3 separate regions of the Homo sapiens genome follow, and all the other regions are linked to region 1. The links come from fine-mapping of genetic effects on gene expression. A gene starts in region 1. Each other region holds a variant in brackets. All regions are shown on one strand. Distances are between the middles of the regions.

Evidence for each region.
Region 2: its variant is fine-mapped to the expression of PHYH in ileum (GTEx, PIP above 0.99). The same link has a PIP of 0.9 or more in unexposed skin.
Region 3: its variant is fine-mapped to the expression of PHYH in whole blood (TOPMed, PIP above 0.99).

What each region holds. Positions count from the first base shown.
Region 1 is chr10:13,294,640-13,305,705 of GRCh38, reverse strand. It overlaps PHYH (phytanoyl-CoA 2-hydroxylase), which reads left to right and starts at 5,642. Exons shown (of 9, transcript NM_006214.4): 1 at 5,642-5,738; 2 at 7,461-7,519; 3 at 10,100-10,210. The coding sequence starts at 5,664. LOC124902377 (a long non-coding RNA gene) reads right to left here and starts at 5,517. Exons shown (of 2, transcript XR_007062056.1): 1 at 5,300-5,517; 2 at 2,738-3,652. RefSeq lists enhancers at 2,954-3,103, 3,294-3,583, 3,440-3,940, 5,316-5,455, 6,032-6,652 and a silencer at 5,636-6,055.
Region 2 is chr10:13,347,998-13,359,063 of GRCh38, reverse strand. SEPHS1 (selenophosphate synthetase 1) reads left to right here and starts at 10,771. Exons shown (of 9, transcript NM_012247.5): 1 at 10,771-11,064. RefSeq lists silencers at 3,499-3,652, 10,656-10,875, 11,006-11,066 and enhancers at 9,004-9,795, 9,796-10,586. The variant A/G (reference allele first, on the strand shown) is at 8,044.
Region 3 is chr10:13,319,180-13,328,712 of GRCh38, reverse strand. It overlaps SEPHS1 (selenophosphate synthetase 1), which reads left to right. Exons shown (of 9, transcript NM_012247.5): 7 at 263-362; 8 at 5,666-5,878; 9 at 9,357-9,533. Among named protein-coding and RNA genes, the nearest start is that of PHYH, 24 kb to the right of the region's middle. The variant G/C (reference allele first, on the strand shown) is at 5,799.

The DNA of each region.
Region 1 (11,066 bases):
TCGCTCTGTTGCCCAAGCTGGAGTGCAGTGGCGCGATCTCAGCTCACTGCAACTTCCCCTTCCCAGGTTCAAGCGATTCTCCTGCCTCAGCCTCCTGAGTAGCCAGGACTGCAGGCATGCGTCACCATGCCCAGCTAGTTTTTGTATTTTTAGTAGAGACAGGGTGTTGGCCAGGCTGGTTTCAGACTCCTGTCTTCAGGTGATCCGCCCACCTCGGCCTCCCAAAGTGCTGGGATTACAGGCGTGAGCTACCGCACCCAGCCTACATACCTGGCTAATTTTTAAACTTTTTGCAGAGATGGGGTCTTGCAATGTTGCCCAGGCTGGTTTTGAACTCCTGGCCTGAAGTGATCCTTCTGCCTTAGCCTCTGAAAATGCTGGGATTACAGGTGTGAGCCACTATATTCTAAACGAACTTTAAAACTTGTAACCAAATGACCTCACCTACAGTAATATCTATTCTCAGAGTTTTTGAATCTGGAGTTGATTGCAGATAATTTTTTATTCATATAATGACATTTCCTTAAGTGTGTACAATGCTTGAACAACTTATTATTGTTATTATTATTATTTTTGGAATCTCTCTCTGTTGCCCAGGCTGGAATACGGTGGTGCAGTCTCACCTCACTGCAACATTTGCCTCCCGGGTTCAAGCGATTCTCCTGCCTCAGCCTCCTGAGTAGCTGGGACCACAGGCGCCCACCACCATGCCTGGCTAATTTTTTTATTTTTTTAGTAGAGACAGGGTTTCACCATTTTGGCCAGGCTGGTCTCAAACTCCTGACCTTGTGATCCACCCGCCTCAGCCTCCCAAAATGCTGGATTACAGGCATAAGCCACCACACCCAGCTAACTTTTTAAACTTTTTAAAATAAATTTTAGAGATAGGATCTCTATCACTCAGGCTGGAGTACAGTAGGGGATCATGGCTCACTGCAGCCTAGAACCCTGAGCTCAAGCAATCCTCCTGCCTCAGACTCTGGAGTAGCTAGGACTACACGTGCGCCACTGCACCCCGCTATTTCTTTTTAAAATTTTTTGTAGAGGCGAAGTCTTGCTATGTTGCCCAGGCTGGTCTCGAGCCTCTTGGTTCAAGCAATCCTCTGCCTCGACCTGCCAAAGTGCTGACATTACAGGCGGGAGCCACCATGCTTGGCTTCAACTATTTATTTATTTATTTAATTTATTATTTTGTTTTTGAAACACAGTCTTGCTCTGTCGCCCAGGCTGGAGTGCAGTGGCACAATATTGGCTCACTTCAACCTCCACCTCCTGGGCTCAAGCGATCCTCCCACATCAGCCTCTCAAGTGGCTGGTACTACAGGTGTGCCACGCTCAGCTAATTTTCTGGGGTTTTTGTTTGTTTGTTTGTTTTCTGGTTTTCGTTTTTGTGTTTGTTTCTTTGTTTGAGATGGAGTTTCACTCGTGTTGCCCAAGCTGGAGTGCAATGACGCTATCTCGGCTCACTGCAACCTCCACCTCCCGGGTTCAAGCGATTCTCCTGCCCCGGCCTCCTGAGTAGCTGGGATTACAGGCATGTGCCACCACGCCCAGCTAATTTTTTTTTTTTTTTTTTTGGTACTTTTAGTAGAGACGGGTTTTTAACATGTTAGCCAGACTGGTCTGGAGCTCCTGACCTCAGGTGATCCACCTGCCTCAGCCTCTCAAAGTGCTGGGATTACAGGCGTGACCCACTTCCCCTAGCCAGTTTGAACAATTTAATCCAAGATTTTAAAACTCAAACATTTTACTTAGCTGTTCAAATATGGCTATTATTTAACAAATCATTTAATTTATATATATGGGGAAAACTATTCCTTAGATCATTTTGAAAATTGTGTTTCAAAACTTGTCTGCAAGGTTACTTTCAATACGTAAGTAACCAAGCACATTACTGGAAGTGGGGGGAAGCTAATTTTGAAGTAATCTTCAAAAGGTCAACTTTAATAAGAAATGAATAAATGCCTAATACCAAAGGGGAAAGAACTTTTCATTCTTGTGATAATGTTTACATTCCATTAATGTTCTGCTTCAATTGTTCTAAAATATTTTTATTTTAATAACATAATTATTAAAGATGCCTACTTAGGGAATTTTCCAATAATCCAAATAGCTATTTGAAAGAAAACTAGTAACATTCATCAAATTACCTCTTTACCTACGGAGAAATTATTATGTTAATTCTCCGTGGGATCTTAAATGAAAAATGTTAAACCCAGCATCCCTCTAATTTTAAAAAGGCAGATAACAATTGTGAGCATTTAAGAATTTCCTTCATCTGTCGGTAAAAAGCATCAGTTTGGGCCGGGTGCGGTGGTTTACGCCTGTAATCCCAGCACTTTGGGAGGTTGAGGCGGGCGGATCACTTGAGGTCATGAGTTCGAGACCAGCCTGGCCAAAATGGTGAAACTGGCTCTACTAAAAATACAAAAAATTAGCTGAGCTTGATGGCGCGCCTGTAATCCCAGCTACTCAGGAGGCTGAGTCAGGAGAATCTCTTGAACCCGGAAGGCAGAGGTCGCAGTGAGCCGAGATCACGCCCTGCACTCCAGCCTGGGAAACAGAGTCAGACTCCGTCTCAAAAAAAAAAAAAAAAGAAAAGAAAAGCATAAATTTAAATACATCTAAATATCTAAGTACATCCTTGTATAAATGCCTTGGGGGAGAGATGGCAGGAATTTTCACATGGTTGTGAAATTAGGGCATTTTAAAGGAACAGTAAAAACACAGGTGTAAGTAGCTTCATCTCATTCGAATTTCTTTATTGGTCATGAAAACCAATCACCGTCAGCGCGGGTAAAGGTCCTGATCTTTTTTTTTTTTTATTTTTTCACCCAGGCTGGAGTGCAGTGGCACGACCTCGGCTCACTGCAAGCTCCGCCTCCCGGGTTCACGCCATTCTCCTGCCTCAGCCTCCCGAGCAGCTGGGACAACAGGCGACCGCCACCACCCTGCTAACTTTTTTGTATTTTTAGTAGAGACCGGGCTTCACCGTGTTAACCAAGATGGTCTCGATCTCCTGACCTCCTAATCTGCCTGCCTCGGCCTCCCAAAGTGCTGGGATTACAGGCGTGAGCCACCGCGCCCGGCCAAGGTCCGATTTTTTAATAAACAAGGGAAGGGTGATGAACTGAATTCACAGCTTCAGTTTTTTTTCTCCTGGCAGCAGTGCCCACATTTCACCAGGCGAGGGCAGAAAGGAGAGACCGCCTCGCCGGTCCACATCCAGAAAGGGGCGTTCCCAAGGGCAGAAAGAGGCCGACCCTCCACCTGCACCCGCCCCAGGCCCTGCGCTTGCGTTCAAACCGTGACAAACCGTAGAGTCCTTGAGAGCCCCGGGTTACTCCTACATGGTCATATTCCCGCGCGGGATGCCGAAGTGGGGCAGATGAGGTCCGGAGCTGCTGAGGGATCCCGGGTCCTTCTGTTGGTCTGAGACCCTGGGGCGGGCGGAATCCCGGAGAAAGCCGGAGGGACTCCCCAGTGGAAGCCTGGGAGCTGCCGTTCTCCTCCCTGCCTGTGCAAACAGGAAGGGGCTGGTGATGCTGGCTGCGGGCCTCCCTCCTGGACTGCGACATTGTCACCAAATTCTATAAAGACGTCATGCAGGAAGTGATAACGTGTGCTGCGACGTTCTGGAAGTAACTCGAAGCTAAAAAAGAACAAAAAATCAATGAAAAAATGAAACTAAAGAAACAATGAGATGCTATGTCAATATCCGTAGTTATGGAATGGAAAATAAATCTTACAAAGAGATGCTGGAGTTATCTAAGAAATTTACACCATACTGGCCTGTGTGCATCAGACTTTTCTGGAGGTCATTTATTTTATTCACTTTTTTTTTTTTTATGACCAACCGAACTTTCTAATATTTTGGGCTGGAGTCCCACTAAATGAAATACCCCTTTTGAATGGCACATATGACTTTTAGGGATGCATCTTAGCATTTTTATTTTTTTATTTTTATTTTCAAAACTTCATTGATGTTTTGGAGTTTTGTTTGTTTTTTGTTTTTGTGTTTTTTGGACATGGCCTCACTCTGTCGCCCAGGCTGGAGTGCAGAGGCACGATCTGGGCTCACTGCAACTTCAAACTCCCGGGCTCAGGTGATCCTCCTGCAGCAGGACGAGCCGCAGACAAAACTCAGACACCGGATTAAAGAAGGGCTGTATTAGGCCGGGAACTTCGGCAGACTTGCAACCGAGGTCCCTGAAAAAGAAATTCTTGGCCCTTTTAAGGGCTTGTAACTCTAAGGGTCTACGTGAAAGTTTAGTGAGAGATCGAGCAAGCGTGGGGAACATGACTGGGGGCTACAGGCAACAGCTAACAGAACAGAAAGTTTTGCAATGCTTCCTCATACAATGTCTGGAATTTTTATTTATTTAATTTATTGATTTATTTTTTATTTTTTTTGAGACGGAGTCTTGCTCTGTCGCCCAGGCTGGAGTGCGGTGGCGCCATCTCGCTCACTGCAAGGTCCGCCTCCTGGGTTTACACCGTTCTCCTGCCTCAGCCTCCTGAGTAGCTGGGACTACAGGCGCCCGCCACGACGCCCGGCTAATTTTTTTGTAGATCAGGTGTTCTCACTATGTTACCCAGGCTGCTTTCGATCTATAGCGATCCTGAGCTCAAGCGATCCTCCTGCCTCGGCCTCCCAAAGTGTTGGAGTTACGGGCGTGAGCCACCGCACCCGGCTAAAAACCTGTTTGTTTGTTTGTTTGTTTGTTTAGAGACGGAGTCTTGCCCTGTCACCCAGGCTGGAATGCAGTGGCGCCATCTCGCTGACTGCATCCTCCGCCTCCCGGTTGCAAGTGATTCTCTTGCCTCAGCCTCCCCAGTAGCTGGGATTACAGGCGTGCGCCACAACACTCAGCTAATTTTTGTATCTTTAGTAGAGACGGGTTTTCACCAAGTTGGCCAGGCTGGTCTCGAACTCCTGACCCCGTGATCCGCCTGCCTTGGCCTCCCAAAGTGCTGGGATTACAGGCGTGAGCCACCGCGCCCGGCAAACTTTTTGTTTAAATCGGAGATTTTATTCTTTCAGCTGTCAGTGGAAGGAGCAGTCACGTAGGGTTAAACAGATGGAAGCCATGACGTTAGGAGAGTGAGTGAGGTCCCAGCCCAGCCACTTGTCACTGTGTGACCTCGGCCTGGTCACTGGGCCCCCGAGCTTCGGTGCGGCAGGGAGGGTCCTGGTGATGGAACAGAAACAGGGTGCGGGGCAGGGGTAATGACTCACGCCTGTAGTCCCAGCACTTTGGGAGGTCGAGACGGGAGGCGGGGGGAGTTTGAGACCCACCTGGGCAACGTAGCGAGACCCCATCTCTACAAAAAATAAAAATTAGCCCAAGAGTTCAAGGCTGCAGTGAGCTATGATCGCGCACTGCACTCCAGCCTGGGCGACAGAGCAAGATCTTGTTTCTTTTTAAAAAGAAAGAAAATAAAGGACGGAAGGATCATGGTGTGGGGAGGACTTCAGCCCCGGGCGGTTGCCCGGCGCGCGGACTCTAGCGGACTAGGGCTCCCCAGCAGCCCGGCCCGCGAGCTGGCACCGCCCGGAATCCCGCTTACGTCCAGTCCGGGGCGGCGCCTGGAGGCGGAGCCGCCCGCTGGGCTAAATGGGGCAGAGGCCGGGAGGGGTGGGGGTTCCCCGCGCCGCAGCCATGGAGCAGCTTCGCGCCGCCGCCCGTCTGCAGATTGTTCTGGGCCACCTCGGCCGCCCCTCGGCCGGGGCTGTCGTATCCTTTGGGCTGCGCGGGGCTCGGGCTGGATCCGGCGCCGGCGCCGCCGCCTGAGTGGTGGCCCTGGTCCGGGTGGAGGCCTCGGGGTCGCACGCTTCGCAGCCCCAGCGCCTCCTCGCTCAGCGCCGCGTCCCCGCCTGGGTCGCGTCTCTTCCAGGAGCCGGGGAGCGGGGAAGAGGCTGCGTCCCCCGAGGACACGCGCGGCCGCCCTGGGGTCGGGGCAATTGCCGCGTTGCCCTGCCCTCCGGGATCCCTGGGGGCCTCTGCTCCTCTCTTTGTGGAGACGTCGTTTCACCGGCGGCGCGTGACCCCGGCAGCTGTCCAGAGACCCAGAGATGTCCAATCACAGGCGCACGGTGCACAGGCGCGCAGGGCTGCCTGGAACCGGCCCAGGCAGGCAGTGACCGGGACCTCTCCGGAGGGGAGAGGACGGTGCCCTCCCGGGCAGGAGCTGGCCAGGCAGGCGCTGCCCAGGGCGGCCTCCCTGCTGGACTACGGCATTGCCACTGAGTTATATAAAGACACTATTTGGGGAAGGACAGCGGGTGAGGACTGGCGCGGCGGCACACGCCTTGCCTGTTGTCTCGGCTCTTCTGGGGGCCAAGGCCAGGAGTCCAGGGTTACAGTGAGCCGTGATGGCCAGTGCGTTCCAAAAGAGAGAAACAGAGAGAAAGAAAGGATAACATGTTAATTGATGAGAGTGACATTCCGAAAGTAACCGATTAAGCTAAAGAAACAATGCAATTCTATGTCAACTCTCTGCAGTTACCGGATAGAAAGGAGATCTTTAAAAGGAATTTCTAGGGTTTTGCTTTTTTGGTTTTTTTTTTTTTTTGAAACAGGGCCTCACTCTGTCACCCAGGCTGGAGTGCAGTAGTGGTACGATCTCGGCTCACTCCTGGGCTCAAGAGATCCTTCCACCTCAGCCTCCTAAGTAGTTGGGACTACAGGGTTGCGCCACGATGCCAGGCGAATTTATGTTGTTGTTGTTATTGTTGTTATTATTATTATTATTATTATTATTATTATTATTATTATTATTTTTGAGACGGAGTCTTGCTCTGTGGTCAGGCTGGAGTGCAGTGCCGCACTCTGCAATGTCGGCCCACTGCAACCTCCGCCTCCCAGGTTCAAGCCATTCCCCTGCCTCAGCCTCCCAAGTGTAATTTGTATTATTATTATTAGTAGTAGTAGTAGTAGCAGTAGTAGTAGTAGTAGTAGTAGTAGTAGTAGTAGTAGTAGTAGTGGTGGTAGTTTTTTTTCTGAGATGGAGTCTCTCTCTGTTGCCCAGGCTGGAATGCAGTGGCCTGATCTCAGCTCACTGCAATCTCCACCTCCCAGGTTCAAGCAATTCTCCTGTCTTAGCCTCTCCAGTAGCTGGGATTACAAATGAACGCCACCACGCCTGGCTAATTTTTGTATTTTTAGTAGAGATGGGGTTTCACCATATTGGTCAGGCTGGTCTCGAAATCCCGACCTCAGGTGATCCATCCGCCTCGGCCTCCCAAAGTGCTAGGATTACAAACGTGAGCCACCGCCCCCGGCCTAATTTGTATTTTTAGTAGAGATGGGGTTTCACCATGTTGGCCAGGCTGGTCTCGAACTCCTGAGCTCAAGTAATCCTCCTGCCTCAGCCTCCCAAAGTGCTGGAATTACAGGCATGAGCCACCGTGCCTGGCCTTCTATATTTTACTTTATTTGCCTTAATTCACATCCTAGGTAGCTCATCCCACTTCAGGGACTATTTCCTCTGCCAGTTTCCATCCTCAACAATTCCAGTAAGTAGTTTGAGTTTTGATTTTGAAATATATTATGTATATAAAAGTTTCTTGAGTGGTAATGAAGATATACCACATAATATGTTACCTGATTAGAATTTTATTATACAAATCCTCTGTTTCCAGGACTTATTCTAATTAGTGCACTTGTGGAAAATTTTGGAGACCGACTAATTTTCTGTATGTATTTTAAGATTCAGAAAGAAGGAAAAATACCAGAAAATACATAATCCGACATTTATTTATTTATTTTTAATAGAGACGGGCCCTTCCTATGTTGCCCAGGCTGGTGTTGAACTCCTGGGCTAAAGCAATCCTCCTGCCTTGGCCTCCCAAAGTGCTGGGATTGCAGCCTGAGCCATCACACCAGCCTTATAATCTGACTTTTAAAAATTCAGTTAAACATCTCATTTAAATTAACTTGTGGCCGGGCACCGTGGCTCATGCCTGTAATCCCAGCACTTTGGGAGGCCAAGGCAGGTGGATCACTTGAGGTCAGGAGTTCGAGACCAGCCTGGCCAACATCTCTACAAACCCCACCTCTACAAAATGAAAAAATACAAAAATTAGCTGGGCATGGTGGTGTGCACCTATAATCCCAGCTACTCAGGAGGCTGAAGTGGGAGAATCGCTTGAACCTTGGAAGTCAAGGTTGCAGTGAGCTGAGATCACGCCACTGAACTCCAGCCTGGGTGATAGAGCCAGACTCCATCTCAAAAAACAAAACAAAACAAAACAAATTAGCTTGTATTTGGTTATATGGACATATTAGCTAGCATCTTTGGTTTATCTTAAATCACCTTTAAAGGGGAAGATCTTGACCTTCCTAAATATTCTCATACAACCACAATTCCGATCTTAAGGAATAGGTTGGGTGATTTGAGTTTATGGGTATGCTGTACATTTATTTGGATTTTGTTACTTTACCTTCTTGGAATGCATCAACTGGACAGTTAAAAATATACAATTTATTGAATTTGTTTCCCATCTGAAAAATCATATGTATTCATTACAGAAACATCAGAGAAATAGAAGGAATTTTAAAAAATCATCCCTAATTCCATTTCTAAAGGCAATCACTGTTAAAAATTGCTTTGGTGTATTTCTTTGCAGGCTTTTCTTTTTTTCATATAGTGTCTTGGTTTTACATAATTGTAATAATATTTTATTATAATAAGCATTGTCCATACTATTTTTTATTTTATTATATTTTATTATATTTTATTTTATTTTGAGACCGAGTCTGGCTCTGTCGCCCAGGCTGGAGTGCAGTGGTGCCATCTTGCTTCACTGCAAGCTCCGCCTCCCGGGTTCACGCCATTCTCCTGCCTCAGCCTCTCCAGTAGCTGGACTACAGGCGCCAGACACCATGCCGGGCTAATTTTTTGCATTTTTAGTAGAGGCGGGTTTCACCGTGTTAGCCAGGATGGTCCCGATCTGACCTCGTGATCCGCCCACCTCAGCCTCCCAAAGCTAGGATTACAGGCATGAGCCACTGTGCCCGCCATCCATACTATTATATGGCCTTAATTTTTAATGTCTGAGTCATATTCCACTGAGTGAACATAGTGTCACTAGTTAATTTTTCTTCCACTAATGCACTTTTTTTTTTTTTTTTTTTTCTGAGATGGAGCCTTGCTCTGTCACCCAGGCTGGAGTGCACTGGTGCAATCCTGGCTCACTGCAATCTCCACCCCCACAGGTTCTAGCGATTCTCCTGCCTCATCCTCTTGAGTAGCTGGGATTACAGGCACGCTAATTTTTGTATTTTTAGTAGAGATGGGGTTTCATCATGTGAGTCAGGCTGGTCTCGAACTCCCGACCTCAGGTGATCCACCTGCCTCAGCCTCCCAAAAAGCTGGGATTACAGGCATGAGCCACTGTGCCCGGCCCACTAATGCACTTGTTTTGGTGACATAAAGCGTAAGTTTTCAGATTATTTCCTTGGTCTTAGAAATGCTGAATTGAAGAGCATGAACGTTTCCTAGGTTCTTGTTTTTGTCTTTGTTTTTGTTTTTTGAGACGGAGTCTGGCTCTGTCGCCCAGGCTGGAGTGCAGTGCCATGATCAGAGCTCACTGCAACCTCCGCCTCCCAAGTTCAAGCGATTTTCCTGCCTCAACCTCCCGGGTAGCTGGGATTACAGGTGCCCACTACCATGCCTGGCTAAACTTTGTGTTTTCAGTAAACATGGGGTTTCACCATGTTGGTCAGGTTCGTCTCAGACTCCTGACCTCAGGCGATCCACCTGCCTCGGCCTCCCAAAGTGCTGGGATTATAGGCATGAGCCCCCACGCCTAGCCTCAGGTTCTTGATACATATTTTTAGGATGTAATTTAAATTTTTTTTTTTTTTTTGAGACAGGGTCTCACTCTGTCGCCCATGCTGGAGTGGAGTGGCACAACCAGTATTTTTTGTAGAGACAGGGTTTCATCATGTTGCCTGGGCTAGTCTCAAACTCCTGACCTCAAGTGATCCACTTGCCTCGGCCCGCTAAAGTGCTAGTATTAGAGGTGTGAGCCATTGTGCCTAGCCTGTAATTTAAAAATGTAACTTATTTTGGGATTCTTTTTCTCCTTTAGGTATACTCTGGATAATAACGTTCTAACCCTGGAACAGAGAAAATTTTATGAAGAAAATGGGTTTCTAGTAATCAAAAATCTTGTACCTGATGCCGATATTCAACGCTTTCGGTACAGTAACACTATTTGTTATTTTACAATAGTATGTATTGTGTGCATGTAATGAGAATACAAGGTGGATTCGCTCCTGGCTTTACAGATGTTTTTTAATGATTTGGTTTGTTGGGAAGTGTTTAGAAGCATGGGCTCTGGTGCCAGACTGGCTTTTTATTTTTTATAGAGAAAGGTTCTCACTCTGTTGTGTAGGCTGAGTGCAGTGGTGCGATCATAGCTTACTGCGGCCTCAAGTTCCTGGGCTCAAGCAATCCTCTTGCCTCAGCCTCCTGAGTAGCTGGGACCACAGTTGTGCACCACCATACCCAGCTAATTTTTTATTTCTTTGTTTTTAGAGACAGGGAGTCTCACTATGTTGCCCAGGCTGGTCTTGAACTCCTGGCCTCACCCTCCTGAGTTGCTGGGATTACAGTCGGGAGCCACCATGCCTGGGCTTCAGTCTCAGCTCCACCACTTAATATCATGTGTCCTGGGGCAATTTACTTCACATCCCATGCCTCTGTTTCCTCATCTGTAAAATGGGGATAATAATAGCACTTATGTCCTAGTGTTGTTATTAGGACTAAATACGGTGAAATATATGGAAACCACTTTGAAGAGAGCTGGGCACATGGTAAGTGTTACAGAAATGTTTGCTGTTATTATTATTACAATGTAACCAAATTATAAAAAGACTTCCCTACTGGTATGCTAAACTAGGGAATAATTTAATTCTGGGAATGGATTCTAGCCAGACAGTTTCTCCTCCCTTTCATTGGAATTATTCTACCTCAAGCTGGAGGCCAACTTAGTGCAGAGAAACCACCCCTCAAGTCTGCAACCCTTTCCACAGAGGAGGGCAGGGCAGGTGCTT
Region 2 (11,066 bases), 53 kb before region 1:
TTCCTTTGACTTTTCTAACAAATAAGCCACAAATTTAGTGGTGCTTATTAAATCTATTAAAAAGATGCAAATCTATTACTTTATAGTTCTGGAGCCCAGAAGTCTAAAATGGGTGGGCAAGCCACGTGTGGTGGCTCGCAGCTGTAATCCCAGCACTTTTGGAGGCTGAGGCCAGTGGATCACCTGAGGTCAGGAGTTCGAGCCCAGCCTGGCCAACATGGAGAAACCCCTGTCTCTACTAAAAATACAAAAAATTAGCCAGGCGTTGTGGCAGGCACCTGTAATCCCAGCTAATGGGGAGGCTGACGCAGGAGAATCGCTTGAACCCAGGAGGCAGAGGTTGCAGTGAGTCAAGATTGCGCCATTGCACTCCAGCCTGGGCAACAAGAGCGAAACTCCGTCTCAAAATAAATAAATAAATAAATAAATAAATAGTAAAAAATATAAAAATAAAAATAGGCCAGGTGCAGTGGCTTATACCTATAATCCCAGCACTTTGGGAGGCCAAGGCAGGCAGATCACCTGAGGTCAGGAGTTCAAGACCAGTTTGGCCAACACGGTGAAACCCCATCTCTACTAAAAATACAAAAATTACCCGGGCATGGTGGCGCATGCCTGTAATCCCAGGCATGTAATCCCTACTCGGGAGACTGAGATGGGAGAATCTCTTGAACCCAGGAGGTAGAGGTTGCAGTGAGCCAAGATCGCACCACTGCACTCTAGCCTGGGCGACAGAGCGAGAGTCCGTCTCAAAAAAACAAACAAACAAATACATACATACATACATAAAAATAAAAATGGGTGGGCAGAGCCGTGTGTCTTCTGGAGGCTTCAGGGGAGAATCCGTTTCTTATGGACCCTCCTGTGTCCCTTGTGATGACATTGAGCTCACCTGGATAATCTGGGATAGTCTCCTATCTCAAGATCGTTAGTTTAATCACATCTGCAAAGCCCTTTTTGCCACGGAAGATACTATGTTCATTCACAGGTTCTGGAGATGAGGATGAGGGTATCTTCAGGGATTATTACTCTGTCTACCAAGAATAGGGTGTTCACTCTCCCTAGAGTATCTAGAGAGCCCTTCAGAGAGGAGACTCTTGGAGCTGAATCTCACAAGTTTAGTTATTATCCATTTTCACCAGAAGTGAGGAGGGTGGAAGAGGGAGAGCAGGTGAAGAAATAGTACTTGCTGAGACACTTCGTGAAGAAAGAGAAGTGAGCCCAGAGATCTGGAAGCCACTCAGTGTGGCTGTAGGGCTGAAGAGGGTAGATTAAATTAGAGAAGAAAAGTAGAAGCCTGGCTGCGGTGGCTCATGCCTGTAATTTCTGCACTTTGGGAGGCCAAGGCAGGAGGATCTCTCAAGCCCAGAAGTTCAAGGCTGTAGTGAGCTGTATGGTGACACCACTGCATTCCGACCTGGGTGACAGAGCCAGACCAAGTCTCAAAAAAGAAAGAAAAGTAGGCCGGGCGCTGTGGCTCATGCCTGTAATCCCAGCACTTTGGGAGGCCAAGGCGGGCGGATCACCTGAGGTCAGGAGTTTGAGACCCGCCTGGCCAACATGGTGAAACCCCGTCTCTACTAAAAATACGAAAATTAGCCAGGCGTGGTGGCGGGCATCTGTAATCCCAGCTACTCGGGAGGCTGAGGCAGGAGAATTGCTTGGACCCAGGAGGTGGAGGTTGCAGTGAGCTGAGATCACACCACTGCACTCCAGCCTGGGTAACACAGTGAGACTCTGTTAAAAAGGAAAGGAAGGGAGGGGAGGAGAGGGGAGGGGGAAAGAGAGAAAGAAAGGAAGGAAGGGAGGGAAGGAGGGAAGGAGGGAGAGAGGAAGGAAGGAAGGAAGGAAAGAAGGAAGGAAGGGAGAGAAGGAGGCTTGGTCACAAAGCGTTTATTTTTTTGTTTGCTTAGTTTTTTACCATACTAAGGAGTCTGAAATTTATCCTGTAGCTATTATTTACTTGGTCAGTGCTATTACTTCAGCCTGTGCTATTGTTTCTTTAAACTTTTATTTAAATTGACTCACTTTTGTTCTGAACAATAATGTCTGTGAAATCACAGGTTTTATGTTTCAGTTAAATCCTTCCAGTGGGTGTTGAAATGAATACCCCTAACTACAAAAATAAAATATTCTTCCATGCCCTACTTAACTCATCCATGCACACCCACGAATGAAGACCAGACTTTTTGAGAAATGGAGCCACAGGCAACGGGAGCTACTGCGCAGTTTTAAGCAAGGAAAGGACATGATCAGGTTTGCCTCTGATAAATGTCATTCCAGCCGCATGGATCATTTTGGGCTGATGGAAATGAGCAAAACAGCAAAAGACCGTAAATAAGGCTAAGTCCACAACAGTGGGGATGAGAGATGGAGAATATCAAGGTGGTAGAATTGACTCAGAATAGGGACTGGAAAGAGAGGGAGGAGTTCAGCATATGGGCCAGGGTTCCACCACGTGCAACACAGGAGATTGTCCACCAGCCAAGAGAGTACATAGTCGGGGGTGATGGGACAGGGAGAGTGGGAAGGAAAATGATTATTTTGGTCTGGAACATGTTGAATGTGAAGTGTTTGTGTAACACTCAAGTAGGTGCCCAAATGCCTGTGTCTGGGGTCTGGGAACCAGGAATCCTTTAAGGCAGTGTTGTCCACTAGAAAGTGGATGTGACCACATGTGTCATCTTAAGTGTTCAAGTGGCCCCATTTTAAAAAGTAAAAAGAGGCCGGGCATGGTGGCTCACACCTGTATCCCAGGACTCTGGGAGGCCGAGGCAGGTGGATCACGAAGTCAGGAGTTCTAGAGCAGCCTGGCCAACACAGTGAAACCTCATCTCTACTAAAAATACAAAAATTAGCCAGGTGTGGTGGGGCACAGTGGCTCACGCCTATAGTCCCAGCACTTTGGGAGGCTGAGGCGGGTGGATCACGAGGTCAGGAGTTCTAGACCAGCCTGGCCAACACAGTGAAACCTCGTCTCTACTAAAAATACAAAAAATAGGTGTGGCCAGGCATGGTGGCTCACGCCTATAGTCCCAGCACTTTGGGAGGCTGAGGTGGGTGGATCACGAGGTCAGGAGTTCAAGACCAGCCTCGCCAACACAGTGAAACCTCGTCTCTACTGAAAATACAAAAATTAGCCAGGTGTGGCTGGGTACGGTGGCTCACGCCTGTAATCCCAGCACTTTGGGAGGCTGAGGTGGGTGGATCACAAGGTCAGGAGTTCAAGACCAGCCTGGCCAAGATGGTGAAACCCCATCTCTACCAAAAATTAAAAAAAAAAAATTATCCAGGCATGGGGGCGGGCACCTGTTAATCCCAGCTACTCGGGAGGCTGAGGTAGAGAATTGCTTGAACCCAGTAGGTGGAGGTTATAGTGAGCCGAGATCGCCCACTGCACTCCAGCCTGGGTGACAGAGCGAGACTCCATCTCAAAAAAAAAAAAAAAAAAAAAAAGGTTAAAAGAAACAGGTGACATGAATTTTAATTGTGTGTGTGTGTGTGTTTGAGATGGAGTCTTCTTCTATTGCCCGGGTTGCAGTGCATTGGTGTGAACTTGGCTCACTGCAGCCTCCGCCTCCCAGGTTCAAGTGATTATCTTGCCTCAGGCTCCCCAGTAGCTGGGATTATAGGCACCCACCACCATGCCTGGCCAATTTTTTTTTAGATGGAGTCTTACTCTGTCGCCCAGGCTAGAGTACAGTGGCACGATCTCGGCTCACTGCTACCTCCACCTCCTGGGTTCAAGTGATTCTCTTGTCTCAGCCTCCCAAGTAGCTGGGATTACAGGCACCTGCCACCACACCTGGCTTATTTTTTTGTATTTTTAGTAGAGATGGAGTTTCACCATGTTGACCAGGCTGGTCTGGAACTCCTGACCTCAGGTGATCCAGCCGCCTCAGGCTCCCAAACTGCTGGGATTACAGGCATAAGCCACTGTGCCCTGCCTGAAAATTTCAAACAAAAGAGTGGGACTAGCAAATGCTGGAGGCTGGGTGCATGGGCTCCAGACGTAGCCCAAGCTCAAATCCTGGTTTCACTACTTACAGCTGGGCACTGTGGTAGCACTGCCCACGCCATTGACATCTGACTCACTGATCTTACCCAAAGCTGCAGGGGCCAGCCCGCTGAGAGCATCCCACCTCAATCACCTGCCTGCCCAGCACTCCAGGGCAGCTCTGCTGGCCCTGAAGTTCTCAGTCTTGTCCAGTCCAGTGAGAGGACGTGCGGGGAGTTCCGGGGAATTAACATCCAGGGGCAACCCTTAACCACCAAAGGACAGGAGTCAGTGGATAGAGCCGTGGCTTCTTTTCCTGCCAGTAGCATGAGTTTAAGGGGACAGATTTGTTGCTATTGCTGTTGAGACAAATTATCACAAACTTTGTGGCTTTGTCAGAGGCATTTGAACCAGATCAACTCCATCTTGAATGGGAGCTGGGTAAAATGAGGCTGAGACCTACTGGGCTGCATTCCCAGATGGTTAAGTCATTCTAAGTCACAGGATGAGATAGGAGGTCAGCACAAAATCAGGTCATAAAGACCTTGCTGATAAAACAGGTTGCAGTAGAGAAGCCGGCCCAAATCTACCAAAACCAAGATGGTGATGAGAGTGACCTCTGGTTGCCCTCATTGCTACACTCCCACCAGCACCATGACAGTTTACAAATGCCACGGCAATGCAGGAAGTTACCCTATATGGTCTAAAAAGGGGAGGCATGAATAATCCACCACTTGTTTAGTATATCATCAAGAAAGAACCATAAAAATGGGCAACCAGCAGCCCCCAAGGCTGTTCTGTGTATGGAGTAGCCATTATTTTATTCCTTTACTTTCTTAATAAACTTGTTTTTTAAAAATACATACATAAAATTAAATAAACTTGCTTTTGCTATTTTGCTTTGCACTGTGGACTTGCCCTGAATTCTTTCTTTCTTTTTTTTTGAGACAGAGTCTCACTCTGTCACCCAGGCTTGAGTGCAATAGCACAATCTCGGCTCACTGCAACCTCCACCTCCTGGATTCAAACGATTCTCCTCCCTCAGCCTCCCGAGTAGCTGGGATTACAGGCGCCTGCCACTATGCCTGGCTAATTTTTGTATTTTTAGTAGAGACAGGAATTCACCATGTTGGTCAAGCGGGTCTCGAACTCCCGACCTCAGGTGATCCACCCGCCTCGGCCTCCCAAAGCGACGGGATTACAGGCGTGAGCCACCGCACCCAGCTTGCCCTGAATTATTTCTTGTGCGAGATCCAAGATTCCTCTCTTGGGGTCTGGATCAGGGCCCCTCTCCTATAACAGCTTGAATTATGATCTGACAGTTCTGTGGACCAGAAGTCTGACACAGATATCATTAAGCTAAGATCAAGCTATCAGCTAGATGTATTCTCTTCCAGAGGCTTTAAAGGAGAACCTGCTTGTCTTTTCCATATTCTAGGGGGCACCTGTTTTCCTCAGTTTGTGGCCGCTTCCTCCATCTTCAAAGCTAGCAATGTCAGTCTAATTCTTTCTCACGCTCCCATCTCTCCAGCTCTCTATTCCCTCTTCCACTTTTCAGGAGGCTTGTGATTACCTTGGATCCACCTAGATTATCCAAGATAACCACCCTATTTTAAGCTCAAATGATGAGCAAATTTTTCTTTAATTATTTTAAGAGACAGGGTCTCTGTCACCCAGGCTGGAGTGCAGTGGTACAATCATACCTCACTGTGTCCTTGAACTCCTAGGCTCCAATAATCTGCCAGCCTCAGCCTCCCGAGTAGCTGAGACTAGAGGCATGAACTACAACACTTGGCTCTGATCAGTACATTCAATTCCTGCAACTGAAATTCCTCTTTGCCTTGTAACATGACATAGTCACAGGCTCTGGGGCTTGGGACATAGACCTACTGGAGTTCGTCATTCATCTGCCTGCCCTAGGGGGTCCGTACCATTTCTCAGAGCAGCCTCAACAGGGCAGAGTCCCAGGTGCCCACGGTTGGTAGGCCACTCTAACATTCCTTCCGGCTTTCTCCTTTCTGTTTCCTCCTGTCTGCTTCATGACTTATGTTTCCTAGGATCACCTCCCAAATTAACTAACTCCCTTCTCCCTAATCCTTGTCTCCAGGTCTACTTTGGGGGAGCCCAAACTAAGACAGTGACCTTGGATAAATTACTTAATTAGTCGGAACCCTGGTTCCCATCCCCATGAAAGGAAAACCTACCGCAGGGGACTGTGGGGAGAATTCTAAAAGCAGTGCTTTAAAACACTGTGCAGTGGGGTATGTAGTGAATCCTCAACAAAGGTTAGCTATTGTTGGAGGGGTGGAAGTCAGGGTACAGGCAGGGACCAGCCTGGGACCGGCAGAGGGCAGTCCTGTCTCTGAGACACTGACCCTGGAGGTCAGAGGAGTCTAGTGGGGCCAGGGAAGGGTGGGGGAATTACAGGGTTTCCCCTGAGGACATGAATTCTTTTCTGTAAGGTGCATCTGCTCTTGAAGGCAGCAAAGTGTGAACCAGCCCTTGGGGAGAATAATGAACATCAGGAATAACATACTCAATGATTTCTGAGGTGTCAGAAAAGCCCGGCTGGCACTGGGGGCTGACATGCCCATCATGGCAGGATCTCTAAGTTCTGAGTTTCCTCCAGCCCAGTGGAAGGACAAAGAAGGCAGGTAGAGGGGCTTAAGTTTGGACATGTGGGGGTGAACATGGTCAATGAAATGGGTTGAGGTGAGATGAGGCTGCAGAACTACCCTCAGACGGTCCAAGCTGAACAGAATGAAACGGATCCACTTCAGGAGACTGGTGGCCCCCATGAAGTTAGAGTGTGGGTGTCCTATGTAAAGAAGGGAGAGGACTCAGGGACGGGGGAGAGGGTGTTGGTGTTTAAGATTTCCAGGGTTAGCTAAGCATGGTAGTAGTCCCAGCTACTCAGGAGGCTGAGGTGGGAGGATTGCTTGAGCCCAGAAGTTTGAGACCACCTTGGGCAACATAACGAGAGCTCATCTCTAAACGAATAAAAAATGAAAGATTTCCAGGGCCGAGAAGGTTCACAGCACGGCCAAGACAATGGGTGTCTAAAGTGGAGTTAAGGTCAAGGTCATCAGATTTGCACATCCATCATCTAGCAGGTGCTATTCCTGAGAATGGACCCTCTCCATCCCCTGGGATGACAGAGCAGGGGCCACTTTTGAATGGGCATGATTCAAACCATGCAGGGGAGTGACACTTCTGGCAGCAGATGGTGGCAGTGTTGGATGGCATGAGCCCCGAATGAGAAGGGCAGGTGACAGGAAGGTGATGTCACTGGAGCTGCTTTTCTGTTTTGGGGTGAGCAGGATGTGGGGTATAGAACAGGCAGCCTCTCGTCCCTCTGGGTTTCAGAGGAAGTGGAATTCTTAGGTCAGTGTTCTTCAAAAGCATCAGAATCACCCAGGGAGCCTGGCAAAATGGGGATTCTTCACATCCCTTCCCCACCACATACACCTCCGACCTGCTGGAGTCTTTTCCCATGGCTGCCATAACAAAGGACCGCAAGCTGGGTAGTTTAAATCCCGGAGGCTGCTAGCGGGAAGCCAAGGTGTCGGCAGGGCTACGCTCCCTCTGAAAGCTCTAGGGAAGAATTCCTCCTTGCCTCTCCCAGCTTCTGATGCTGACGGCAACCTCCGCTGTAGCTTGTAGCTGCATTGCTCCAACCTCTGTCTCGGTCTTCACATGCATGGCCATCTTCCCTGTGTCTCCTCTGTGCCGCTGTCTCCAAATCTTCCTTTTCTTTTCTTTCTTTCTTTTTCTTTTTTCTTTTTTTTGAGACATCTTGCTCTGTCACCCAGGCTGGAGTGCAGTGGCATGATCCCAGCTCACTGCAACCTCTGCCTCCTGGGTTCAAGCGATTCTTCTGCCTCAGCTTCCCGAGAAGCTGGGATTACAGGCATATGCCACCACGCCCAGCTAATTTTTGTACGTTTAGTAGAGATGGGGTTCGCCATGTTGGCCAGGCTGGTCTCAAACTCCTGGCCTCAAGTGATCTGCCCACCTTGGCCTCCCAAAGTGCTGAGATTACAGGC[A/G]TGAGCCACCACGCCCAGCCCAAATATTCCTTTTTTTCTAAGAATATGAGCCATAGGATTTAGGGCATATCACAATTGAGTATGACTTCATCTTACCTTGATTAAATCTGCAAATATTTTATTTCCAAGTAAGGCCACATTCACAGGTATGGGGGGCAGTGAGGATTTCAACACACCTTTTGTGGTGGACATAATTCAACCCATTGTATCTGCTAGCTGTAATCTTTCAAGTGAGTGAAGCTGGTAAATTAGTTCTTTTTGTTTTGTTCTGTTTTGTTTGAGACAGGGTCTTGCTATGTTACTCAGGCTAGAGTGTAGTGGCACGATTACAGCTCAATGTAGCCTTGAACTACTGGGCTCAAATGATTTACCTCAGCCTCTGAGGTAGTTAGGACTATAGGCATGCGCCATCACACCTGACTACTTCTTAAATTTTCTGTAGAGACGCGGTTTCATTATGTTGCCCAGGCTGGTCTCAACCTCCTGGCCTCAAGTGATCCTCCTGTCTTGGCCTCCCAAAGCCCTGGGGTTACAGGCACCCTGAGCTACCCTGCTCAGCGGTAAACTGGTATTTTTAATAAGCCCCAACCAGACAATGCAACCCAGGAGAACCATCTCTTGGACGGAACCAGCAGAGCCTGAGAATCCAGCGGGGATGGCTCCCTAGAATGGGGTTCTGGTGAGCCCGGGAGTTGCGGGGGAGCGTAGGACTAGCTCAAAGCAGTACCCAAGGAAGAAGCTCTCATCACCGGCAAAGAAAAGGATGCATGACTCTGCCAGATGATCTGGGCCAAGGCTGTAGTGTGGCCCTGGATGAAGTAAGGCATCTGTGGCTTACGGCCTCTGCGGCAGAGAACTGCTTCCCGGTGAGCTCGTGGTGGGTGGAGGCGGGGAGGAAGAGTCGGTTCTGAGGATGGTGGCCTCCCACCGACGCAGCGGGGATCGGCCTCTGTCCCGCCCAGCCACTTGATTTCCAAGTTCTGCAGAGCTCTGTCCAAGGTCTCTTTCACTTTTTTCCTGAGCTCTCCCTTCGGGGTTAATCTCACCTCTTACGGAGGCTTCGAACACCATTTACATGCTGATGGCACCCAGATTTGCATCTCTGAGCCCCATCCCCACACCAAATTCCGGACCTGTTTCCCTATTAACTTTGGTCTGGAATATCCGGCAGACCTGAGATTTGCAACTCTGAGCCCCACCCCCACACCATCCGGCAGACCTCAGATTTAACATTTCCAAAGCTGAACTCACCCCGAAACTTGTTTGCCTTTCAGCAGTTCTTAGATAAATTATTAGCATCGCTCCTCATTCCCTCCCCCACCCCCCACCCCCGCAAACTGGAAACCTGGGGGTCATCTTATCCTTCTTCCTCTCCTTCCTACGTGCTAAATCACACCAAATCCCTTCCCTGGGCTGCATTCCCCTTGCTTTCAGTTCAAGTACATCTCCGGGCTTGACTAGTACAATACCCTCTTAATGAGAACCGTGACCCTGTCTTCCCCTCTGGGAGAAGCCATCCTCCAGTGGCAGGCGCCTGTAATCCCAGCTACTGGGGAGGCTGAGGCAGGAGAATCACCTGAACCCAGGAGGCGGAGGTTGCAGTGAGCCGAGATCGCGCCACTGCACTCCAGCCTGGCGACAGAGTGGGACTCCGTCTCAAAATAAATAAATAAATAAATATAAAATAAAAGAATGCAGACTAACACGTTCTTTGCAAACTTACTACAGGGTATGAAGAAAGTACACAAAGACAGGAGCAGCCTGTCTTCGAGGTGGCATCACTTCTGCATCCAGCCCAGGATTAAAACCCGGAGCAACTGGCAAGCGGAAATGTTAACGAAAAGGGCATCTGCGTAGCGTGCCAACCTGCCGTGCCACGTAAAGCACGGTCCAGTGACCCAAAACATTTCTGCTCCCAAATAACATTTGGAAAATGCTGACCTACTGCCTAGAAAAGTTCGATCGGCATTCCTGCACACTGCTGTTTTAGAGAGAAGCCCTAAACGATATCTGAAAGTATTTGGTTTATTTTCATCAGCAATGCTTTAGAATCTCGAAAGCCCAGAAAAAAGTTATTTCACGACGTGAAGCTCCCCCCTCGATGTCAATTCGAACACATCCAGGGTTGCGGCTGCCATGTTCGCTCGAACATGTGCAGGACAAACAATGCAACCAGCGGGGAACCGTAAACCTTTTTCCTCGACTTCCTACCACGCACATGAAGTGTTCAAGAAACTTTGCAGGACGTCTCCACATTTCACGAGGCTCCCGTGAACTCCGGAGCCGAGCTAAACAATAGGAAGGACAGATGCTGGGAGTCCCCAAGCATCTAACGCGCCGTTTGTGTTTTCAAAAAACCTCTGCCTGGCGCCCAGGCGGCTTTTCCTGGGCTCCTAGCCTCCTGTGCAAATTGTTCCCATGGTCATTGTCTTCCAGGACGCTCCGCTGCGCACTCGGGGAGCGGGGACAGCGCCCCGCAGAGCGCCGCGCGGTCGAGCCCGGCCAGGTGGCGGAAACGTTCCCGGCCCTTGCAGCGGGGCCCGGGAAAAAGGTGGCCCGGGCGCCAAGGGCGGCTGCCAATGCAACTCGCAACTTTTGAAATCAATCCTTTTTTGCATCATGCAACGGATGCCACCGCTCCTCGGGTTTGCAACCCCCCACCCCTCCCCCGAGACCAATCATTGCCGCGCTCGGGGCTGCACGGCGCCCCCGCCCCCTTCCCGGGCCGCACGCCGCCACCCAGCAGCCAGGGCCGCCTCTTAAAGGGAGGTGGCCGGCCTTAAAGGACCCCCGCGCGCCCAGCCGGCGGGAGCGCGGCGGCCCGGCTCCCGCAGGGCCGCGCCGAGGCAGGCGAGCCCCCGCGGCGCCCAGGCGCGGGCCCGGGCCCCCGCCGCCGCCGCCGCCGCCGGGCGCGGCATTTTTATTCAGGCGACGCTTAAGGGAGCCCGGCCGCGCCCGGTGCATTGTGGGAGCGGCCCGCGGCCCGTTTTCGGGAGGAGGCGGAGGGCGCAAAGCGAGCCGGT
Region 3 (9,533 bases), 24 kb before region 1:
CCGCTAGACTACACATACCCAATAAATCACAGCACTTAATTACAGAAATGTGGGATGAGAACAGAAAAGACGCCATGCTGACAGGTCTAATGGACACCTAAAATACTATCCACAGAAAAACCAGAGTTGGAAAATTCAGTTTTCTGAATTAAAGTCCCTAGAAGTTAAATAAGAAAAAGTTGCTGTTTTTCTCAGTTGCTAGAAGTAAAGATTAATCACATTTTCCTCTCTTTCTCTCCCTCACCTACATTTCTATTATCAGCCTGAGAAATGGAATAAGATTAAACTAGTGGTCACCCAAGAAGATGTAGAGCTGGCCTACCAGGAGGCGATGATGAACATGGCGAGGCTCAACAGGACAGGTATGACAGGTGGGAAGGGCGCTTCGGTCCCAGGGGTCCAAGACAGTAAATGTCTTAGGCTTTTCTGGCCACATACTGTCTCAGGGTAGGTGGCCAGATTTTTGGCCAGTGACTACAGACCGTCTTCTCCTGGTACCAGGTTGGCATTCCATAGATCACTGCAGATGGTCCCTGACTTACAGTGCTTTATAATTAAGAAGGAAGTCCTAACTTCTGACATACCAGAGGAACTATTTCTAGAAAGCGTTTGTGTGGGTTACCTATGTAAGATTTGGAAGCAAACCATTCAGAATGGAAATTTAGAAAGTTTAAGATACTGGAGCTATTTCCAGAACATAACCTTGGAAGTCTAGAAGTGCCCCCACTCCCACCCATCCCCTGCATTCCTGCTTAGGTGTAACCACTGAATTTTGTGTTTATTTTCTTGCATTTTAGAATATTTTTATTGCACAGCCCTTGTGTTCTTAAGCAGCAAATTAGTTTTGCATTTTTTTTACTTGTTTTGTTCACCATTGTTCCTGAGAGTCTCCTTGTTATATGTAGCTGTAGTAGATTCCTTTTGGCTGTGTTGATTTTTCCACTGGCTTCTCTGCTCTCCTGTTTCACACTGGGGCGACTGCTATGGACTTCCTTGGCCCAGCCCTCTGAGGCACGTGTAAGAGATCAGTACTGGCTCAGCTTTTATAGATAGTGCCAAACTGTCTTCCAAAGTGTTCACCACAGTTTACAATGGCACACTATGTTTAGAAAGCGTTTTTTAATATGTCTTCTCTTCCCATTTATTTTATACATTTTTTCTACTATAAAAGAATTACATGCTTATTATAGAAAAGTTTTTAGAAAATGGAAAATAGTACAGAAAAAAGTTGTCCATAGTCCCTCCACCCAAAACAGCTCCGGCTAGCATTTTTATGTATTCTTCCAGGACTTTTTTTCATGTTTGGCTGGTGATTTACTATTGTTGTTTTAAAGTAGTGGTTAGTATAAGTTTTCACTATGTAATGGTTAGTATATGTATTTGGAGTGCCTGCTTTTGTTGTTTTGACATGACTAATGTTTCCCATATTATGTATCCTAGTAAACTTTTTTTTTTTTTTTTTTTTTTTTTTTGAGACAGAATCTAACTCTGTCGCCCAGGCTGGAGTCCATTGGTGTGATCTCGGCTCACTGCAACCGCTACCTACCAGGTTCAAGCAGTTCTGTTGCCTCAGCCTTCCCAGTAGCTGGGACTACAGGCACGCATCATCACCATGCCCGGCGGATTTTTGTATTTTTGGTAGAGACAGGGTTTCACTATGTTGGCCAGGCTGGTCTCGAACTCCTGACCTCAGGTGATCTACCCTCCTTGGCCTCCCAAGGTGCTAGGATTATAGGCGTGAGCCATAGTACACATAATTTTTAATGACTAGATAATGTTCTACCAGAGAAATGTACCACAATTATCTTTTACCTATTGTTTTACAATTCATTTGGAAATAAAAATTTTCTGTAATTTGTTGTTACTTGTAAGAAAGTTATAGCCAGGCACAGTGGCTCACACCTATAATCCAGCACTTTGGGAGGTTGAGGCAGGAGGATCACTTGAGTCCAGCAGTTGGAGACCAGCCTAGGCAACATAGTGAGACCCCATCTCGTCTCTTTAGCTGCGCCTGGTGCATTCCTGTAGTCTAAGCTACTCGAGAGGCTGAGGTGGGAGGATTACTTGAGCCCAGGATGTTGAGACTGCAGTGAGTGGTGATCATACCCCTACGCTTCAGCCTGGGTGACAGGGTGAGATCATGTCTCAAAAAAAAAAAAAAAGTTATAGATCAGAGGAACAGAATAGAGAATCCAGAGGTAGGTCCATATTATAGTCAACTGATTTTTTTTTTTTTTTTGAGATGGAGTTTTGCTCTTTCGCCCAGGCTGAAGTGCAGTGGCAGGATCTTGGCTCACCGCAACCTCCGCCTTCCGACTTCAAGTGATTCTTCTGCCACAGCCTCCCAAGTAGCTGGGATTATAGGCGCCCGCCACCACGCCTGGCTAATTTTTGTATTTTTAGTAGAGATGGGTTTTCACCATGTTGGCCAGGCTAGTCTTGAACCCCTGACCTTGTGATCCGCCTGTCTCGGCCTCCCAAAGTACTGGGATTACAGGCGTGAGCCACTGCACCTGGCCTAGTCAACTGATTTTTGACAAAGGAGTAAAGGCAATTCATTGGAGAAAAGAGTCTTTTCACCAAATGGTGCTGGAACAAGTGGACATTCACATGAAGAAAATTATTCTGGATGCAGATCTTATACCTTTCGTGAAGATTAACTCAAAATGAATGTTTAGTGTGTTTTCACACTGCTATAAATAGCCAAGACTGGATAATTTATTTATTCATTTATTATTATTATTATTATTTTTTTTTTTTTTTTTTGAGACTGAGTCTCTTTTTTTTTTTTTTTTTTTTTTTTTTTTTTTTTTTTTTGAGACGGAGTCTCGCTGTCGCCCAGGCTGGAGTGCAGTGGGGTGATCTCGGCTCACTGCAACCTGTGCCTCTCAGGTTCAAGCGATTCTCCTGCCTCAGCCTCTGGAGTAGCTGGGATTACAGGGCGCACGCCACCACACCCCACTAATTTTGGTATTTTTAGTAGAGACGGGGTTTCACCATGTTGGTCAGGCTGGTCTTGAACTCCTGACCTTGGCCTCCCAAAGTGCTGGAATTGCAGGCGTGAGCCACCATGCCCAGCTGACTGGGTAATTTATAAAGGAAAGAGGTTTAATTTACTCACAGTTTCACATGGCTGGGGAGACCTCAGGAAACTTACAGTCGTGGCAGATGGTGAAGGGGAAACAGGCACCTAGGTTCTTCATGAGGCAGCAGGACAGAGAAGAGCAGGGGAAACTGCCACTTACAAAACCATCAGATCTCATGAGAATTCATTCACCCTGACGAGAACAGCACGAGGGAAACCGCCCTCATGATTCAGTCACCTCCCACCAGGTCCCTCTCTTGACATGTGGGGATTACAATTCGAGATGAGATTTAGGTGGGGACACAGAGCCAGACCATATTGATGATTCGTAGACCTAAATAAAACACAACAATATAAAACTGGAAGAAGGTAACATCAGAGAAAATTGAGGTGGCTTTGGGTTTGGTGATGACTTTATAACACCAAAAGCACTATCTATTAAAAAATTGCTAAGTTTGGCTTTATTAATATAAAAAACTTCTGCTCGGTGAAAAACACTGTTAAGGAAATGAAAAGACAAGCCACAGACTGGGAGAAAAATTTTGCCAAACACATACCTGTTCAAGGTCAGGTATCCAAAATATACAAAGGACTCTTAAAACTCAATAATAAAAAACAACTCAATTTAAACATGGCCCAAAGACCTTGACAGACACCATGAAAGAAGATAACGCAGATGGCAAATAAGCATAAAAGGAAACCTTCAGTGTGGTACGTCAATAGGGAACTGTAGATTAAAGCAGTGATTGAGATGCCACCACATACCTGTTAGAATGGCTAAAATCCAAAACACTGAGAATAGCCTGGGCAACATGGTGAAACCCCATCTCTACCAAAAAAATACAAAAAATTAGCTGGGCATGGTGGCTTGCGCCTTAGTCCCAGCTACTTGGGAAGCTGAGGTTGGGAGGATCCCTTGAGCCCAGGAGGTCGAGGCTGCAGTAAGCTGTGATCGCACCACCTCACTCCAGCCTGGGTGACAAAGCGAGACCCTGTCTCAAAAAAAACCCAAAAACACTGATAATACCAACTGCTGGCAAGGATGTAGAGAAACAGGAAGGAACTCTCATTTATTACTGGTAGGACTGAAAACTGGCACAGCCACTTTAAAAGTCAGTTTGGCAGTTTCTTATGAAACTAAATATGTTATTATATGATGCAGCGATTGTGCTCCTTGATATTCACTCAAAAAAGTTGAAAACTTACATTCACACAAAAGCCTGCAGACAAATGTTCATAGCAGCATTATTCATAATTGCCAGAACTTGGAAGCAGCCATTCATTTCTTCAGTAGGTGAGTGGATGAATGGATAAACAAAATGTAGTGTATCTGTATGATGGAATATAATTGAGCAGTAAAAAGAAATGAGCTATCAAGCCATGAAAAGATGTGGAGGAATCTTAAGTGCATATTACTAAGTGAAAGAAGCCAGTCTGAAAAAGCTCCATACAGAAGGATTCCAACTGCATGACATTCTGCAAAACTGTAGAGATGCAGAAAGGATCAGTGGTGGCCAGAGGTTATCGGAGAGGAAGGGGATCAGGTAGAGCAGAGCACTGAGGATTTGTTACTTCCCACTTAATTTCTTTCTAAACGCAAAACTGCTCCAAAAAATAAAGTCTGTAAATTTTTTTAAAATTAAATAATAGGTCGGGTGAATGGATAATTAAATAATAGTAGGTGAGTGGATGAATGGATAAACAAAATGTAGTGTATCTGTAGTATGGAATATTATTGAGCAGTGGCTCACACTTGTGATCCCAGCGCTTTGGGAGGCTGAGGCAGGACGATTGCCTGAGCCCAAGTGCAGTGAGTTATGATCATGCCACTGCACTCCAGCCTGGTCAATAGAGCAAGACTCTGTCTCTTAAAAAAAAAAAAAAGAAAGAAATTTAAAAATAAACTTGCACGCAATTCACCTTTCGCGGGAGTACCTTGATACTGAGCAAGGCCTTCTTAAAAAGTGCTGGTCTTGGCCGGGTGTGGTGGCTCACATCTGTAATCCCAGCACTTTGGGAGGCCAGGGCGGGCGGATCATGAGGTCAGGAGTTCAAGATCAGCCTGGCCAATATGGTGAAACCCTGTCTCTGCTAAAAATACAGAAATTAGCTGGGCGTGGTGGTGCGCACCTGTAGTCCCAGCTATTCAGGAGGCTGAGGCAGGAGAATCACTTGAGCCCTGGAGGCAGAGGTTGCAGTGAGCCGAGATCGTACGACTGCACCCCAGCCTGGATGACAGAGCGAGACTCCATCTCAAAAAAGGAAAAAAGTGCCGGTCTTTGGTTTTAGGATGGTCTTGGCCGGTTTACCTTCCACTGAGATCATAATCCCTCTGCATAGTTTTTTTAGTTTACTGGAAAACTACTATTAATTGAAGCTTCTGATAGTTTTCAGGTGGCTCAAAGTGAAATAAGAACTTTTGGAATTTCACTATGTCTTTGGTTGATTTTACATTGCGTTTTCATTATTCCGATACGTCATCTCCCTGACAAGTAAGGAAGTTGCAGATTAATTGTGGACGTAAGATTTTTGAGTTGAGGAAAGGTGTTTTTTCTCAGAGCCGCCCCCTCTCTCTCCCAGCTGCAGGACTCATGCACACGTTCAATGCCCACGCCGCCACTGACATCACGGGCTTCGGGATTTTGGGCCATGCGCAGAACCTGGCCAAGCAGCAGAGGAACGAGGTGTCGTTTGTAATTCACAACCTCCCGGT[G/C]CTGGCCAAGATGGCTGCGGTGAGCAAGGCCTGCGGAAACATGTTCGGCCTCATGCACGGGACCTGCCCGGAGACTTCAGGTACAGGATGCTGGGCGCATCTGAGGACTAAATAGTGAGGCTAACAGAAAGCTCAGCGAGAAAGCAGCAGCCCCACCCCGAGTGGGCCCCCACTCTGTTCGAGTTCCATGCTGCTGACCTCGGCCTCCGCAGCAGCTGGTGCCTTTCCTCCTCCCGGTGGGTCTGGTCCCCGCCATCCTGGGTGGATCCAGCAGCCTTGCTGAGGTTGAGTGGCCTGTGCTCTTTTTGATGCAAGGATATGGTGATGGGGGAAATAAGGTAGCATTCAGTTTTTACTGAAAGCTTCGCATTTGAAATTAACTGTAATACCCCTAGGTTACTTTGAACAGGTGATATTTTTTTCCTTGAAAATTGTCTAACGTTGTTTTAAGAATGATAGAGAGAAAAGGGGCCAGGTGTGGTGGCTCTTGCCTGTAATACTGGCACCTCAGGAGGCTGAGGCAGGCACATCACGTGAGATCAGGAGTTGAAGACCAGCCTGGCCAACATGGTGAAACCCCATCTTCACTAAAAATACAAAAAAAAAGTAGCTGGGCGTGGTGGTCCATGCCTTTAATCCCAGCTGCTTGGGAGGCTGAGCCAGGAGAATCACTTGAACCTGGGAGACAGAGGTTGCAGTGAGCCGAGATTGCGCCACTGCACTCCAGCCTGGGTGACAGAGCGAGATTCTGCCTTAAAAAAAAAAAAAAAAGAAAAGAGAATGATACAGAATAAAAAAGAATGCAATAGGATATTATGTCTTTAAAATGCCATTTTTCTTTTTTCTTAGATGTGCAGTAATTTATTAGAGGAAACATAAATGGAGGATAAACGGGAGATGGAGCAAGCGTAGGTAGAGAGAGCCATCAGACAGCAGTGCAGGTCTGACACCATACGCCCCAGTAGTTTGACTCCTAGGGAGCTTTTATATCCCTTATCATTTTTCTAAGATTAAGCTCCTTTTGTTTCCTGATTAATTTGGTGGCCACATCTGTCCGGAACTTGTGGGACGTCCTCCTCTTCATCATGGCAGGTACTCCAGCATGGCCTGCCGGCCGCCGAGGCCGCCACCCACAGCCTACAGGCTCGCCATCGCTCATTCCCACTCCCGCAGCCCCAGCTGGAGCCAGATGGCGCGTCCTCCTGAAGTACCATTTCTCTTTTGCCCCCTTTGTTCCCTTTACCTTTACTGTTTTCATCTTTTAAGTCTCCCTGTTTTTCCCTTTTTTTCGGTTTCTCTCTTTTTCTATTTCCTTTCCTCTAGAACTCTAGTTTTCTACCCGCAAAAGAGTGGAATCACCTTAGGATTTTAAATATACACATGCCGGCCAGGCCTGGTGGCTCACGCCTGTAATTCCAGCACTTTGGGAGGTCGAGGTCAGGAGTTCGAGACCAGCCTGACCAACATGGTGAAACCCTGTCTCTACTAAAAATACAAAAATTAGCGGGGCGTCGTGGCGTGTGCCCTGTAATCCCAGCTACTCCAGAGGCTGAGGCAGGAGAATCGCTTGAACCCAGGAGGCACAGGTTGCAGTGAGCCAAGATCGCCCCACTGCACTACAGCCTGGGCGACAGAGTGAGACTCTGTCTCAAAAAAAAAAAGAAAAATACACATGCCTAGCCCCAGCCTCCCAAAAACGGTGGGATCCATCTCGGGTGGGCCTGGGCCTCAGCATCTGTGAAGGCTGCCTGGGAGATTCCGTAGTAGGCCGGGGCAAGGGACCACAGTGCTGGGACCACAAAGCCCTGGTCACGTCGACCTGTGCTGTGGCGAGGGGGCTTCAGGACTCTGCCAGGCCTCTCACCGCCTTTATAGAGGACGCTTCAGCCTCCCGTTTAAAAAAACAAACCATTTTCTAGAAGTAAGCTCCAACAGGGCAGGGTTTTTTTCCCCTGCTGGTTCAGGCTCTGGCCAGGACAGTGTCTGCCACATAATTGGGCACTGAATGGAAATTGAATGAATTGACGAATGTTACCAGCCATTTAAATTTGTTTCCTTTCTTCAGAAATAGGAAGTTTTTAATTTTATGATGGAGTTTTCCTCTTGTCACCCAGGCTGGAGTGCAATGGCGCGATCTCAGCTCACTGCAACCTCCCCCTCCCCGGTTCAAGCGATTCTCTTGCCTCAGCCCGAGTAGCTGGGATTACAGGGCTGTGCCATCATGCCCAGCTAATTTAGAGACGAGGTTTTACCATGTTGGCCAGGCTGGTCTTGAACTACCTCCTGACCTCAGGTGATCCACCCGCCTCGGCCTCCCAAAGTGCTGGGATTACACGTGTGACCCACCATGCCCAGCCACAAGGTTTTTACATTTTGTAGAAGTAGACTACAGTTTTTCCTCATCATCTTATTTCTACTTAGAGAAATAAATTTTGGCCCGGTGCAGTGGCTCACGCCTGTAATCCCAGCACTTTGGGAGGCCAAGGCGGGTGGATCACGAGGTCAGGAGATCGAGACCATCCTGGCTAACACGGTGAAACCCTGTCTCTACTAAAAATACAAAAAATTAGCCGGGTGTGGTGGCGGGCGCCTGTAGTCCCAGCTACTCAGGAGGCTGAGGCAGGAGAATGGTGTGAACCCGGGAGGTGGAGCTTGCAGTGAGCCGAGATCACACCACTGCAATCCAACCTGGGAGACAGCGAGACTCCGTCTCAAAAAAAAAAAAAATTTATGGCCTATTTACTGGAAAGAGCAACAAAGGTTTATTTTAATGTATTTTATACTGTTTGTCTTTTGGATATAATGACAGAGTCATGACTGGAACCTAGATACTTTGGGGCATACACTGTTTCATGAGTCTTAAATTTTCTAAAAATACAAAAAAGCATTCTCGGTAAAATGAGAGAGTCGATGTAGAGAATCAAAAGTTCCCTTTTGTTTGTCAATATTTGTTTCAGTGTAGCTTGGAAAAAATAGCTACCACATGGGTTATTGAAGCCCCAAACACCTTACCCCTACACAGTGTTATGTGGTTCACGAATAGGTCATTTTCACAGTTGAAAGTTGGAGTGTATATGTGTGTGTGTTAGGAGTTTACTAGCAATTGCTTAATTACAGCATAGAACAGGCCTCTTAGGCTGGGAGTGGTGGTTCATTCCTGTAATCTCAGCACTTTGGGAGGCCAAGGCAGGTGGATTGCTTGAGTCCAGGAGTTTTAGACCAGCCTGGACAACACAGTGAAACCTTGTCTCTACAGAAAATTAGCCAGGTGTGGTGGTGCACACTTGTAATCACAGCTACTGGGAAAGCTGAAGTGGGAGGGTCACCTGAGCCAGGACATTGAGGCTGCAGTGAGCTGTGATTGTACCACTGCACTCCAGCTTGGGCCACAGAGTGAGACCCTGTCTCAAAAAAAAGCTGCTTAGTTGAATGGGAAGAGCTACTTGCATATAGGTGGCAGCAAGTTGTTGATGGAAGTTGGATCTCTGCAGAAGCAGCAGAGGCAGAGAAGCTGCTGTCATGTCAACACTAACAGTCATTCTTGTTTTCTTTTGCCAGGCGGCCTTCTGATCTGTTTACCACGTGAGCAAGCAGCTCGGTTCTGTGCAGAGATAAAGTCCCCCAAATATGGTGAAGGCCACCAAGCATGGATTATTGGGATTGTAGAGAAGGGCAACCGCACAGCCAGAATCATAGACAAACCCCGGATCATCGAGGTCGCACCACAAGTGGCCA